2 separate regions of the Homo sapiens genome follow, and region 2 is linked to region 1. The links come from fine-mapping of genetic effects on gene expression. A gene starts in region 1. The other region holds a variant in brackets. All regions are shown on one strand. Distances are between the middles of the regions.

What was found. PIP is the estimated chance that this variant, and not a neighbour inherited with it, causes the effect.
Region 2: its variant is the best candidate, but not a certain one, in a credible set for the expression of PYCARD in fibroblasts (GTEx, PIP 0.76).

Annotation. Positions count from the first base shown.
Region 1 is chr16:31,200,328-31,204,707 of GRCh38, forward strand. It overlaps PYCARD (PYD and CARD domain containing), which reads right to left and starts at 2,433. Exons shown (of 3, transcript NM_013258.5): 1 at 2,090-2,433; 2 at 1,820-1,876; 3 at 1,159-1,514. The coding sequence starts at 2,363. The coding sequence ends at 1,258. PYCARD-AS1 (PYCARD antisense RNA 1) reads left to right here and starts at 1,558. Exons shown (of 2, transcript NR_102400.1): 1 at 1,558-1,659; 2 at 2,133-3,125. RefSeq lists enhancers at 1,264-1,894, 2,084-2,313 and a silencer at 2,424-2,783.
Region 2 is chr16:31,265,848-31,270,227 of GRCh38, forward strand. ITGAM (integrin subunit alpha M) reads left to right here. Exons shown (of 30, transcript NM_000632.4): 4 at 1-34; 5 at 183-300. Among named protein-coding and RNA genes, the nearest start is that of ITGAM, 8.1 kb to the left of the region's middle. RefSeq lists an enhancer at 1-406. The variant T/C (reference allele first, on the strand shown) is at 2,368.

The DNA.
Region 1 (4,380 bases):
CCCGTTTCTACTAAAAATGCGAAAATTAACCGGGTGGGGTGGCAAGCACCTGTAATTCCAGTTACTTGACTGGCTGAGCCACAAGAATTGCTTGAACCTGGGAGGCAGAGGTTGCGGTGAGCTGAGATCATGCTACTGCACTCCAGCCTGGGTGACAGAGTGAGCCTCCGTCTCAAAAAAAAAAAAAGAAAAAAGTGGCCGGGTGCATTGGCTCACGCCTGTAATTCCAGCACCCCAGCACTTTGGGAGGTGGAGGCGGGTGGACCACTTGAGGTCCGAAGTTCCAGACCAGCCTGGCTGACATGGTGAAACTTTGTTTCTACTAAAAACACAAAAACTAGCCAGGTGTGGTGGCAGGGGCCTGTAATCCCAGCTATTCGGGAGGCTGAGGCACAAGAATAGCTTGAACCTGGGAGGTGGAGGTTGCAGTGAGCTGAGGTCACGCCACTGCACTCCAGTCTGGGTGACACAGCGAGATTCCATCTCAAAAAAAAAGTTTTAAATGTTCCTTTCAAATGAATGAATAAGTAATAACCCTCCAAAAAAATCGCATCAAGAAAAGAGGCAGCTACCACACACAACTCATTTCCTGAAAATCTGCTTTGGTGGTTGGCATGTTTTTTGAGCAAAGTGCAACCTATGACCCTTTCCCCCACGGGATGGGGTGGGGCAGAGGGAGCCTTTAAGCCTGTTAAGAGCCAGCACCAGAAGGAGCCCTCGAGCAATTTGGTGACTTGTGCTCTTCTGTCCTATGTTTAGATAATGCTCTAATGTGTCTCCCCCTGCAAATTTCTCTAATTCTGCATTTTTCTCCAGTGGAAAATGTGGAAGGTAGGGGAGCTATGAAGACTAGTGTGTTTCTAAATGGCTTGGACAGAGCTGCCCACCAGTTTGCGCCCTTTGGTACATGCCTCTTTTAACCTTCGGACCTGGGTCACAGGCTGTTATCTATAATGGTAAGGTTAGACCCTTTAGGGAGCACTGGAGGAGCACCACCTGGTGAATGAGGAGGGATATTCCATGGCGATACCAGGAAGGATGGGGGAAGCATTTGGGGTGCCAGAGACCCTAGGGACATGGAGCTGGAGGCTGGGTGGCCTCTGAAGCATAGCTGAGCTCTGCACATGCCAGCAGGCTAGAAGCAGGAAAACACACAAGTTCAAGCTGGCTTTTCGTATATTGTGTATAAAAAGATCAGATTCAGGATGATTTGGTGGGATTGCCAGGGGCTGACCGGAGTGTTGCTGGGAAGGAGCCTCAGCTCCGCTCCAGGTCCTCCACCAGGTAGGACTGGGACTCCCTTAGGGCCTGGAGGAGCAAGTCCTTGCAGGTCCAGTTCCAGGCTGGTGTGAAACTGAAGAGCTTCCGCATCTTGCTTGGGTTGGTGGGCTCGGCCCGCACTGCCTGGTACTGCTCATCCGTCAGGACCTTCCCGTACAGAGCATCCAGCAGCCACTCAACGTTTGTGACCCTCGCGATAAGCGCAGCCCGGTGCTGGTCTATAAAGTGCAGGCCTGGGGGTGGGAGGAGAACATGAGCCAGCAGCCAGGGTGTGGGGCCTGTCCCTGCTGAACTTGAGTTCTTCAGGAATTCCTCTGCAAGCCTAGGGGCAGGGCTCCAGGGGGCGGCCACCAGGACCCCACATGCAGTGGGATGAGGGTAATATTGTCTCCCTTCCCCCGCAGGGTGTGGGTTGGTGGGTGGGGTGCGCAGGGTTGCCAAGCCGTGCCTGCCCTGCCCTGCCCTGCCCTGGTTGCGGGAGCACAGATGCAGGCTGTGCAGGAGTGCGGTGGGGCCGGGCTGGGTGTGGAGGCCTCACCTGGCTTGGCTGCCGACTGAGGAGGGGCCTGGATCCCAGCTGGCGCGGCTCCAGAGCCTGGAAGGATATGGGCCAAGTGATCCCCTTCCCTTCCCTTCCCGCCGTGGGGCCGGGGTCCCGTTGGTCGGTAGGCCAAGCGTGGGGAGCCTCCTTTCCGGTAGAGCAGCTTTGTTTAGGGGTAGGAGGAACAGAAAGCGGAAGAGCCCGCGGGGTAAGCGCTGGTGTGGGTGGAGGGGAAAGACGGGGTGGAGGGGAACGGGGGCGGCTCACCCTGGTGCGTGGCCGCCTGCAGCTGCCCGGCCATCTCCTGCAGGCCCATGTCGCGCAGCACGTTAGCGGTGAGCTCGGCGCCGTAGGTCTCCAGGTAGAAGCTGACCAGCTTGTCGGTGAGGTCCAAGGCGTCCATGGACAGCAGCGCGCCCCGCGGGATGCGCCCGTAGCCCTCGCGCAGCGGCACCGACAGCAGCTTCAGCTTGAACTTCTTGAGCTCCTCGGCGGTCAGGTTCTCCAGCGCATCCAGGATGGCGTCGCGCGCGCGCCCCATGGCTCCAGGATCCCCGGCCGCTGCCGCCGCTCACCCCGCTGCAGCCGCCGACCAGGAGGAAGTCGGCTCCGGGGCGGAACCTGGACTCCCCGCCTTCCTCCCACTCTGGTCTCCCGACTCCCCGCCCCGGTCCGTTGCCCTCCAGCAAAAGGCGCTTCCTTACTACACCCTTGGTCCCCTCCCACCCAGGCCTCTGGATTGGGGCCCCAGGCCGTCGGGGGACGCCAGGATCGCGCCCTCCAGCTGGCCTGCGAGGTGGGACCCGGGAGGGGGCCGCAGAGGGGCTCATGGGTGGCGCCTGCTTGTCTCTGGGCTTGCACCAGCGGGTACAGACCGGAAACCTGGGCTGGCTCTCACTGGGTTTATTGGAGCACCTAGGCTTAGAACCTCGGATTTCTAGAACCCCGAAACCTCCGCGGTTCCCCGAACCTTAGGATCCTCTCCCACATGTCGTAGAATCTTGGAATCATGACAGCTAGAAGCGTGAAGCTCCCTCAATTCCACATACTGGGGAAAAATGAGTTGTACAAAAGGGCAGAGAGTGCAAATCTCTCTGAGCTTCAGTTTCATTTTCTACGACATGGGGATAACCCTCCGGTGCTTATAAATATTCCAGCATAACATGGCCAACCCGATGGCTCCCGAAACCTTGCCAGATGCTTCCTAGGGGAGCCAGAATTTGATCCCAACACTGATTAAAAAAAAGAAAAAAGAAAGAGAGACAGCCTCCAGGAGATTAAAGACCATGAACTTGAAGCCATACAGTTCTTTGTTTGAATCCTGACTCTACTTCCCAAGGGGGATATTTGGAATCCTTTATTTTTCCCTCTCATCTGGGTTGTAACAATCACTGTTCCTTGTAGTCATACGACCCTGACATATTATACGTTTATATGCTTATTGGACATTCATCCCTCTCTAAAATGTGAGGCCTATGAGCATCGGAGACCTTAACTGTCTTATTCTTTGCTGAATTCCTAGCGTCAAGAATGTACCTGGAAATAGCTGTGTGTGGTGGAGGGCGCCTGTAATCCTAGCTACTAGGGCGGCTGAGGCATGAGAATCGCTTGAACCTCGGAGGCAGAGGCTACAGTGAGCCAAGATTGCACCACTGCACTCCAGCCTGGGTGACAGAGCTAGATTCCATCTGAAAAAAAAAAATGTATCTGGAACACATTAGGTGCTGAGTAAAGATTTGCTGAGTGAAGGAATGAATGAGGCTGTGATGCCTGCAGCATGTTGTATTCAAAAGCTTCCAGCATGGCTGGGTGCAGTGGCTCATCACGCATGTCATCTCAGTGCTTTGGGAGGCTGAGGCCGGAGGGTCACTTGAGCCCAGGAGGTTGAGGGTGCAGTGAGCTATGATTGTGCCACTGCACTCTGTGCCACTCGGCAACAGACACCTTGTCTCAAAAACAAACAAGACAACCAGGATGGGCCGGGCACGGTGACTCATGCCTGTAATCCCAGCATTTTGGGAGGGCGAGGTGGGTGATCAGGAGTTTGAGACCAGCCTGGCCAACAGAGTGAAACCCCATCTCTACTAAAAATACAAAAATTAGCCGGGCGTGGTGGCAGGTGCCTGTAATCCCAGCTACTGGGGAGGCTGAGGCAGGAGAATCGCCTGAACCCGTGAGGTGGAGGTTGCAGTGAGCTGAGATCACACCATTGCACTTCAGCCTGGGCAACAAGAGCGAAACTCCATCTCAAAACAGGAACAAAAACAAACAAACAAAAACCACGATGGGGAGCAGTGCTCTGCTACCCTGCTGAAAGCCTTTTTGTTGTTGTTGTTGTTGTTGTTTGTTTTTTCTTTTGAAGACAGGACCTCACTCTGTTGCCCAGGCTGGAGTACACCGGAGGGATTGTGGCTCACTGCAGCCTTGAACTCCTGGGCTCAAGCAATTCTCTCACCTCGGCCTCCTGAGTACCTGCGACTACAGTTGTGCCACCATGCCTGGCTAGTTTTTAAAATTTTTATAGAGAATGGGTTTCCCTATGTTGTTCAGGCTGGTCT
Region 2 (4,380 bases), 66 kb after region 1:
CCTGGCAGCCACCACCAGCCCCCCTCAGCTGCTGGTGAGTGGGGCTCGATCAGAGGAGCATCCTAATGGGGGTGTTTGGGGGCCCACGCATGGTGGGGCTGGGGGTCTTGTGGAGGGTGGAGGTGCTGGGGTACAAGGACAGGAAGCAGGGGCAGCCCCTTCCACTGGCTCCTGTCCCCTAGGCCTGTGGTCCCACCGTGCACCAGACTTGCAGTGAGAACACGTATGTGAAAGGGCTCTGCTTCCTGTTTGGATCCAACCTACGGCAGCAGCCCCAGAAGTTCCCAGAGGCCCTCCGAGGTGGGTTGCCTTTGGCAGAGGGAACAGATGCGCAGCAAAAGACCAGGGGAGGGGGCAGGACTGAGGTGACGTCTGCTCAAGGTCTGGGCTCTGGGTGCAGAAGAGTGGGGGAACTGGGTCCCATTAGAGTCAGAAGCTAGGGAGGTGCTAGGGTCTTGTACTTTAGGAAAACGCCTTGGCTAGGCACAGTGGCTCATACCTGCAATCCCAAAGCTTTGGGAGCCCAGGAGCTTGAGATCAGCCTGGGCAATGTAGTGAGATCCTGTCTCTAAAAAAAAAAAAAAAAAAAATTAGCTGAGTGTGGTGATGAGCACCTGTAGTCTTAGCTATTTGGAGGCCAAGGTGGGAAGATTGCTTGAGGCCACAAGTTCAAGGCAAGCCTGGGCAACATAGGGAGATCCCCGTCTCTACAAAAAAAAAAAAAAATTAGCCAGGCGTGGTGGCACACACCTGCAGTCCCAGCTACTCAGGAGGATCACTTGAGCCTGGGAAGTTGAAGCTGCAGCAAGTTATGATTGCACCACTGTACTCCAACCTGGGTGACAGAGCAAGACCCTGTCTTTAAAAAATAAGTCCAGGTCACACTGCAGAGGAGGGGATGGTGCAAGGTGTCATTGGCAAGAGGTGGGAATCTTGGGGACCATCCTGGGGGGCGGCCTTCCACACCCCTGTTCCCCAAACCTCTGTTGATTGAGATTCTGAGTGACTGTATGGATTTTTTTTTTTTTTTTTTTTTTTGAGGCAGAGTCTCGCTCTGTCACCCAGGCTGGAGTGCAGTGGCACGATCTTGGCTTACTGCAACCTCTGCCTCCCAGGTTCAAGCGATTCTCCTGCCCCATCTTCCCAAGTAGCTGGGATTACAGGTGCCCGCCACCACACCCGGCTAATTTTTGTATTTTTAGCAGAGACGGGGTTTCACCATGTTGGCCAGGCTGGTCTCGAACTCCTGAGCTCTGGTGATCTGCCCACCTTGGCTTCCCAAAGTGCTGGGAATGAGCCAGGGAATGAGTGGGGGGCATGAGCCACCATGCCTGGCCAGAGTGCGTGGATCTTTCAAGCTGCTTTTTCCCACTGCTTTGTTCGATGGCTATGCCATCTTTTTGCTTGTCTTCATGTTGATTCTGGGACCACAGGCGAATGTTTCTCCCTTGCATTTTTTTTCTTTCTCAAGCCCTGTTCCTCTATATTTCACCCTCCACAGTTAATCCTCCTTCCTCCACAGAGAAAACAAAAGCTTCAGGCATGGACTCCCTCCACTTTCCCCTTCTCTTATTTTATCTTAATAAGCGGTTTTCCAGTCTTCACTGGAATTTGTTGACAAATTCTAAAGGAGCTGTAACACCGCACTTTCTCCTTTTTCTCAAATTTCCATAATGACAGCACTCCTGGCAGTGACTCACTCGTTTTAGAGGAAGACCTGTCTCTCCTCTGTCCCATGACTAAATTCTTCCATATGGGCTTTTGAGAGTCTCTCATGCACCAACTAAGGTGATCACCTATCTTTCTTTTTTCTTTTTTTTTTGGAGACAGGGTCTTGCTCTGTCACCTAAGCTGGAGTGCAGTGGCACAATCTCGGCTCACTGCAGCCTCTGCCTCCTGTGCTCAAGAAATTCTTGTGCCTCCGCCTCCAGAGTAGCTGGGATCACAGGTGCGCATATACTGATTTTTGTATTTTTTGTAGAGATGGGGTTTCACCTTGTTGCCCAGGCTGGTCTCGAATTCCTGGGCTCAAGAGATCTTCCCACCTCAGCCTCCCACAGTGCTGGGATCACAGGTGTGAGCCACTGCGCCTGGCCCAGCATCTCTTGAATCACTTGTTTTCTCTCTAGGACAATTAACTTCCCCCTTCCTCTGGCTGTAAACACTCTTCATTCTATCTGTATCTGAAAAGCAATCAACCACCACAATCGATAGCCATGAAAACAATCTTCTCTCTTCCAGTCTCCTCCTCATCTCCTGCCATCTCTCCTCACCCTCACCACCCAAGCTTCCTGAGTGCATTCTCTTCACCCCCGGCTGGCCTCCAGCTTCCCTCTCCACCTAGGGGCACTGGGTTCTGGGTTCTCT[T/C]TTCACCCACGTGTTCTTCTTTCCTGAAATCACCCAGTTCTGTGGCTTCAGCTAACACTTCTACCTCTCCCTCTTTAGACCTCACTCTCAGGGTTCAAGACTACTTCTTTAAAAAAGTTTTCATTTATTAAAAAATATATAATACATACACTTGGTTCAAAATTCGAAAGGGTGCGGTAGCTCACACCTGTAATTCCAGCACTTTGGGAGGTCAAGGCAGGAGGATTGTTTGAGGCCAGGAGTTTGGGACCAGCCTAGACAACATAATGAGACCCCATCTCTACAAAAAATGCAATTAGCCAGGCATGGTGGCGTGTGCCTGTGGTCTTAGCTATTCAGGAGGCCTCCCAAAGTGCTGGGGTTACAGGCATGAGCCACTGTGCCCTGCCAGTCTTTCTAAAATACAAAACAAATCATCTCACTTCCTTTTCTAAGAACCTTCTGTGGCTCCCCATTGCCTACAGATAAAGTCGAGCTCCTTATTGGAGTAGAAAGGCCCTTGCCCGCTGCTCTTTGCTTGATGCCACCGCTGTGTCTCCATCGCCGTCACATACGTTTGTCCCTGTAGTGCTGTTTCCATCAAACGGCATTCCTGGATTCTGCCAGAATCCTTTTGAGGCCCTTGTCCCATATATCAGTAGGAGTCTCAACTGGGACCAAAAGCACATTCCAGTAATGTAACTGCCCAAGGGGTTCACCTTGCTTGCTGCCTAGACAGAGCCGATTCATCAAGACAGCAGAATTGCGATAGAGAAAGAATAATTCACACAGAGCCAGCTATGCAGGGGACCAGAGTTTTATTATCACTCGAATCAGTCTCCTCGAGCATTTGGGGGCAGAGTTTTTGAGGATAACTTGGTAGGTCGCGGGGGAAGCCAGTGAGCTGGGAGTGCTGATTGATCAGGGATGAAATCATCGGGAGTCGGAGCTGTCTTCTTGCGTTCAGTTGGTTCCTGGGTGGGGGCAGCAAGATCGGATGAACCAGTTTATTGATCTGGGCAGTGCCAGCTGATCCATCAAGTGCAAGGTCTGCAAAATATCTCAAGCACTGATTTTAGGAGCAGTTTAGGGAGGGTCAGAATCTTGTAGCCTCCAGCTGCATGACTCCTAAATCATAATTTCTCATCTTGTGGCTAACGTTAGTCCTACAAAGGCAATCTAGTCCCCAGGTAAGAAGGAGGTCTGCTTTGGGAAAGGGCTGTTACGATCTTTGTTTAAACTATAAACTATAAACTATAAACTAAGTGTCTCCCAAAGTTAGCTCAGCCTACACCCAGGAATGAACACGGACAGCTTGGAGGTTAGAAGCAAGATGGAATCAGTTAAGTTAGATCTCTTTCACTGTCTCAGTCATAATTTTGCAAAGGCGGTTTCAGTAAGATTTATTTACAAAGAGGGGGGTTTATTTATAAAGGGAGTAATTATAAAGCTGTGACAGGCCTAAGGGAGCCATCAGGGACTTTCCAAGCCCTGGGCAAGCAGGTCTGTTGCCACCCCTGGGTTTATGGGTTGAGGAGAGGGAGAGCTCACCAGGGTCTGGAGAGAGTCATGTGGAGCTGGCTTCCTTCTGAGGAACAGTTGGTCTTTTGTGAAGGACATAGCTGTCCCCAAACAACCTCAATGGGAGAACACCCGGACCTCACTGCCCTCCTCCCTCTAGTCTTCTGTTGAGCCCCCTCATCTGCCAAATCCAATGGGAATCCAGAGGGCAACAGAGTCCTGGTGATGGGGTCCCTGCAGGTTGACCTCCCAGGCCACAGAGCTGAGCGGCAATGGGTAGAAAGTGGATTTGGGGATGGGGCAGAAGGCAGAGGAGCACATTCCACATCACTTTATATGTGTGTGCCCTTCCCTTTTCTAGAATCTACTCCTTTTGTATATCTGGCAAATCCTTCCTTCCTTCCTTCCTTCCTTCCTCCTTTGCTTTCCTTTCCTTTCCTTTCCTTTCCTTTCCTTTCCTTTCCTTTCCTTTCCTTTTTTTCTTCCTTTCTTCCTTTTCTTCGAAGTCTTGCT